2 separate regions of the Homo sapiens genome follow, and region 2 is linked to region 1. Evidence: fine-mapped expression QTL. A gene starts in region 1. The other region holds a variant in brackets. All regions are shown on one strand. Distances are between the middles of the regions.

Region 1 (2,896 bases):
TCGGCGCTGGAGGCGAAGGCCTGGAGATAGGCGGCCACACCATCCGCTGCCTGCACCCCGGACAGGACCCAGGCGAGGGCGCGGGTCAGCCGCAGCTCCAGGACTTGCTGTGCATGAGAGTCCAGCAGGGCGCTGCAGCGTTGCACCACTTCTTCGTGACGCCCGCGGGCCAGCAGACCTGCCAGCAGGTGCAGGATGGCGGCGGGGTGGTCCGGGCAGAGGGCGCCGAGGAAGGCAGAGGCCAGCGACCCTGTCAGGGAGACCACTGCCATGCCGTCCCAGTGGATGGCGGGGATCTGGCTGTCCCCGCGGCACCAGGACTCCAGGGTGGCCACCACCGCCGCCCCCCGAGCCTGGGCCAGGGCAGTGCGCACACTCTGCAGGGCTGAGGGGGCGTGGCAGCTGAATGCAGCCAGGTAGAAGGCGGTGGCCAGGGGCAGCTCCCCCAGCGCCAGATGCTGCTCCCCCTCCCGGCAGAGGCAGGCCACGAGCTCCTGGGCTGACATCATGTCTGGGACCCCGACGGGCCCATGTCTGGTCCTCAGAGTACCTGGGGGTGGGGGAGCATGGTGAGTCCACAGAGGGCGGCCAGTTCTCCTGCCCTGTGGCCACCCGTGCCCAGCCTCAAGCCACCTCCACCCCTTCCCATTGACCCCACGGTCAGTGCAGACCCCACTGGGTGAAAACTGGGGGGATCCTGGGCTGGTGGGGTGGGGCCTACCAGGTGTCCCAGGCCAACTTCCAGCCCACTGTTCACCTCTGGGGCCTCAGTTTCGTGCCTTGCAGAATGGGACAGTGGCCTCCCCCAGCTCAGTTCCCTCTAAGAACATCTGACCCCTGAGTGTCCATGTCGGGAGGGTTACGGTGGCCCGAGGTGTCAGGGCCCAGCAATAGGAACCCCGGACCCACCCTCTGCCCCTCCCAACCCTGAGCCCCTCAGGAAGGCACACCCCCCGTCAGTCCAGGCAGCCCTCTCAGTGGGACGCAGGACCACACCCCTGCCCACCCTCTCACACCTGGGCCATTCGAGGGGGGCGCCGAGAGCACCTGCCAGGCCCTTGGGTCGGGGGAGCCACCCCAGCCCATGGGTGGGGGGGTTCAGTTTTGAGGTTGAGGTTCCAGGGACAGCCCCTGGTACTCCCCTATTCCCTGTCCCCAAGCTACTTGACCTGACGAACTAGCTCCGCACAGCCCTTTCTTCCCTCATCAAACAGGCAGCCCCCAGCATCCGCTCTCAGACACACACAGACACACTCACACTCGTCTGCAGCTTGGAGGCTGAGCCGGCTGTGCCCTGGGGACCCAGATTCCCTCGTGGGTGGTGGGGGACAGAGGGATGTGGCTGGCTGGAGGGCCCAGGCCTGGGTGGGGCTCCTATGACCGCCCCGTGTGGGTTGGGGAAGGCACAGCCTGCGGTTTCCCGGGAGAGTGTCAACACCCTTGGGTCTCCTGGCTGTCCTGCAGCGCCCCGCTGTGGCCAGAGGCTACCAGGCCGAGGTCCCACCCACACTGCCCCAGCCAGGCTCCAATGGGCTGCCTCAGAGCAGAGAACCCTGAGTTCATGGGGGTGTTGGGGGAGAAGGGGCCTGTGGGGTACAGCCCCCCATAGCCGGGGCCAGCCTCCACCCTGCCTGCTCTGCCAGGGTGCCCCCAGCCTCCTCTCCACATAGATGAGGAGGGCGCTTCCTGGAGGCAGGTGGGGGCCGCCTGCCCACCCAGTGCACTCAGGCTCTGGGTTTGTCCCCCAGAACTCCGCCTGGGCTGCTATGCGGGCCCCTCACCGCCCAGCCTCACTCCTCTTCTGGCAGGGCCCTGTCACCCGGTCCTGGGGCACCTCCCCACAGGCTGTTCCCTGTGCCGGCAGCTGGGACTGGACCTTCCGTGCACAGCCAGCCCATTTCCCTTGGCCGTCCTCCCTCTGAGAGGCTTAGGCAGCCCTGTCCTGCCTGCACCAGCTGAGCCAGCTGTGCCCTGGGGAGGGCAGGGCACATTAGCCGAGGGCACACCCCTCCCCCATCACAGGGTTGAGGCCCAGAGGCAGCTCTGGGAGCCATGACCTGAGCCTACTGCCCAGGGACCCTGATTGTTGCTGAGGAAGGGGTGGCAGCATAGGGACTATTTTAGGAAACATCACCTTCAGCCCGTGGCCACCGTCAGCCCATGCCGCAGGAGCAGAAAGACTGAGTGGGGTGGCTGGAGGCAGGCTCAGGTCCCTGAAGCTGAGACCCCACCACCGGCAGCTGCCCTGGAGGGCAGGCATGAGTGGGGGGAATGGGGGTGGTGCGTCCCTGAGAGAGGTCCCTCCCAATTCAGGATGCCAAGGTGCCCGGACACCAGGCCAATGCTGGCTCCTCTGTGGGGCTCAGGGAAGCAGGGTTGGGGGTGCCCTTTGGGGGAGGAGATCTTGGGAGTGGGGGGTGGCATCCCTGATCCCCTCGATGTCTGGGTCTCCTGAGACATGCCCCGCAGGCCCTTTGGGGAGGGTGTGGAGCCCCTGCAGCGTGGGCAGAGCAGTCAGGGTCAGTCTGAGGGTGCAGGGCAGGGGGGTCAGCAGGGCTGGGGCTGCCTGGCCCAGTTCTTCAGCTCCATGACATTCACCAGGGCCCAAGGCCTGTGCGGGTAATGCAGTGGGGGCAGTTTATTAAGAGATTGCCCATTACTCGGTGTTGATTACTTTCATTTTAATTGCCCTAATTAGGCGAGAGCTGTAATGGAGTGGGGCTGTCACCAGGGCTGTAGAAGAGCCCGGGGCACAGAGGTGGCAGGTCTGCGCGACAGTTGCCATCACAGCAGTGCCGATGGGCCCCCTGCGTCTCTGCCCTGTGCACAGTGCCCTGCCCGGGGCCCACAGGCACTGGCCAGATGAGCCTGGAAGTCTCGGAGGGTCCCGAGCTAT
Region 2 (2,896 bases), 460 kb before region 1:
GCAAGGGCTGCCACACAAGCCAAAACATGGGGCCCATAGTGCAGACCGTGATACCAGCCACGAGACCACGACGCGGGCTGTCCTACGGTCCTCTCCTCCTTGCACGTCTCCACCCGGCCCCTCTGGCCCTGGCACTGCTACTCGTCTGGTGCAGGCTGGCCTTGCCCTTCTGTCCCGGTCCCCACACCACCTCGGTCTGGTGGCTCCTCCCGACGGAGCCTCTCCCAGCCCTGCTGTGTCCCACCTGTTGCCTGCTGCCCAGCTTCCCCTTTGTGGATCTGTCCCCAGCAGAGCACACTTCCCTGTCTTGTCCCCAGCGGTCCCCAACTGGTCCTGGGCATGCTGCTGACCGTGCGATGGCCAGGTGCCTGGCCGAGCCAACTTGCTGGTCACAGTGTACCTGCCCCCCAACATCACCCCCTTCCTGGGCATCACCCTGCTCATGCCCCCGTCTGCAAACTTGCTCCCATTAGGCCAAACCACTGAAAAGAAAAGGCTAAAAGGGGCCGGGCGTGGTGGCTCATGCCTGTCCCAGCACTTCGGGAGGCCAAAGCAGGCGGATCAGGAGGTCAGGAGATTGAGATCATCCTGGCCAACATAGTGAAACCCCGTCTCTACTAAAAATACAAAAATTAGCCAGGTGTGGTGGCAGGTGCCTGTAATCCCAGCTACTCGGGAGGCTGAGGCACGAGAATCGCTTGAACACGGGAGGCAGAGGTTACTGTGAGCCAAGATCGCTCCATTGCACTCCAGCCTGGCCACAGAGCGAGACTCCGTCTCAAGAAAAAAAAAAAAAAAAAAGAAAAAGAAAAGGCTAAAAGTCTGATGGCAAGTGCCCCCCAAAGGCATTAAACTCAGAAAAGCCGAGGTGCAGAGACACCTTCGGACAGCGCAGCGCCCACCGTCAGTGGAGATCCTCTCTTCCCCGTCTGAGTGGTGCCCGCCAGCCCGAGTGGGCCTCACTCCAAGGCTCAGGGAGACACATTCTGTGATGGATGTGTCAGCTCATCAAACTCTGGGCTCCACGGGCCCCAGAGGAACCATTCGTGATGGAGAGTGAGGGTCCCCGGCAGTGTCTGGGGCACTTCCCGAGCCAAGGCCATGCTTGTCACCTCCTGGCAGGCATGCCCCTCCCCAGCTCTCAGGAGTGCCTTCCAAGCCTTTATGCCAGTTTTAATGACATCAGTTACAGCTTTATAAGCAAGATAAAGGTCACCGTACGACCTCGGGGGCCTCGGGAACCGAGAGGCTGAGCCAGCCCGGGACGGGATCGGGCAGCTTGACCGCTCTGGAGGGAAATTCCAATTCATTATCTTTTTACGGCGGACTCAATTAGACTCCCTAGTCACCTGTGTAGGGCACCAGGCAGCAGGCAGGGATGCTGCCCGAATCAACAAGGCTGCTCGGGCCAGGCCAGCCCCAAGAATAGCCGCGGCAGGCGCAGGACCTGGCCAGGGGGAGGGCAGGCCGAAGCAGAAACGTTGACTTCGTTTAAGTGGATTAAAAACATAAAACGTTATTGGCCCTAAGGGGACGAGAACAGTCTCGTTTGGAGG[T/C]GACCAGACACAGGGCATTAGTCTTTAAGAGTCCATCAGTCAGCCGAGAAGCGCGGCTCATTAGAGACGCAGGGTGGGGCCTGGAGAAGTCAGCGGGAACACGCGGGGGCACACAAGACACATGGGGGGCCTCTCGGACTCCCCTGCTGTCCCCAGCCCCGGGCTTCGTCCTCACCTCCCTCACCCTTCTCACCTCCCACACCGCAGACATGGCTCTGCTGACCCAAGCCACCCAAGATCCACGAGGAGGTGTAGGCTGGGCCAGCACTGTGCCTGGCCTCCCTCAGCAGAGCCAGCATGGGCCCTAGCACTGTCACCGAGAAGGGACCTGGGCTGGCCTTTCCTTTGCCTTTTTAAATATTTTATTTTATTTTATATTTTATTTTATTTTATTTTATTTTATTTATTTTATTTTATTTTATTTTATTTTATTTTATTTTATTTTATTTTAATCATAGAGATGGGGCCTCCCTTTGTGGCCCAGGCTGGCCTTGAACTCCTGAGTTCAAGCAATCCTCCCGCCTCAGCCTCCCAAAGTGCTGGGATCACGGGCGTGGCCCCGCGCCAGCTCCCCTGCCTTTCCTGAGGCATAGAAAATGCGCTTGACCCTAAGCCTCCATCTCCAGTAGCCTCCATCCTTCCTGAACGTTCAGAAAATAAAAGACACTCCAGAGCTCCTGGGGCCTGGGCCGTCGTGGCTGCTCCTGCGTATTTGGCAAGCATGATGCTGACGTTTCTCCACTGCTGCCTTCAGACCTGCCTCTGGGACCTGCGGGCACCTCTGCTGGTAAAGCTGCCAAGACAGGACTGCTCTGGGCTCTCTCCGTGCCCGCCCGCTCCTCGCCTCCAGGAGCCCCCCACAAAGCTGTCTGTGTAGCTGCCAGAGCCGCTGGGCCCTGTGACAGAGCCGCCGGGCCCTGGGGATGACGCTGCGGGGCACCAGCCCTGCCGGGGCCAGGCGGGTGCCGTTCCAGCCAGGCGGGTGTGGGGCAGGCCCCTCATCTTGCTCCTGATCCTCTGGGGGTGCTGTGCTGAGCAGCAGTGGCCCCTCGAGGACTGAGACTCGGGCCTGGGGGCCTGGCCAAGGTCCGGGGCTCCCTGCGGCTGCTGTCCTCAGGGTTCTCCTCACCTCCACTGCATTCCCACGAGCTGTTCTGAAGCTTTCCTGGGGAGGACAGGCCAGGAGCCACCCTGCCACAGCTGTCCTGGGCTCTCAGATAGACAGAGGCCTCGCGGAGCCTTGGAAGCAGCTTCACAGGGTGGCAGGAGGACGCACAGCCGCAGAGGCCAGCTTTCCCGGGGACTGGCTGCCTCCCCAGGCTTCTAAACACCATGGCACC

The links.
Region 2: its variant is fine-mapped to the expression of TTC34 in aorta (GTEx, PIP 0.98).

The regions. Positions count from the first base shown.
Region 1 is chr1:2,800,319-2,803,214 of GRCh38, forward strand. It overlaps TTC34 (tetratricopeptide repeat domain 34), which reads right to left and starts at 1,375. Exons shown (of 9, transcript NM_001242672.3): 1 at 1,259-1,375; 2 at 1-550. The coding sequence starts at 509.
Region 2 is chr1:2,340,910-2,343,805 of GRCh38, forward strand. All of the region lies in intron 10 of MORN1 (MORN repeat containing 1), which reads right to left. Among named protein-coding and RNA genes, the nearest start is that of MORN1, 49 kb to the right of the region's middle. The variant T/C (reference allele first, on the strand shown) is at 1,557.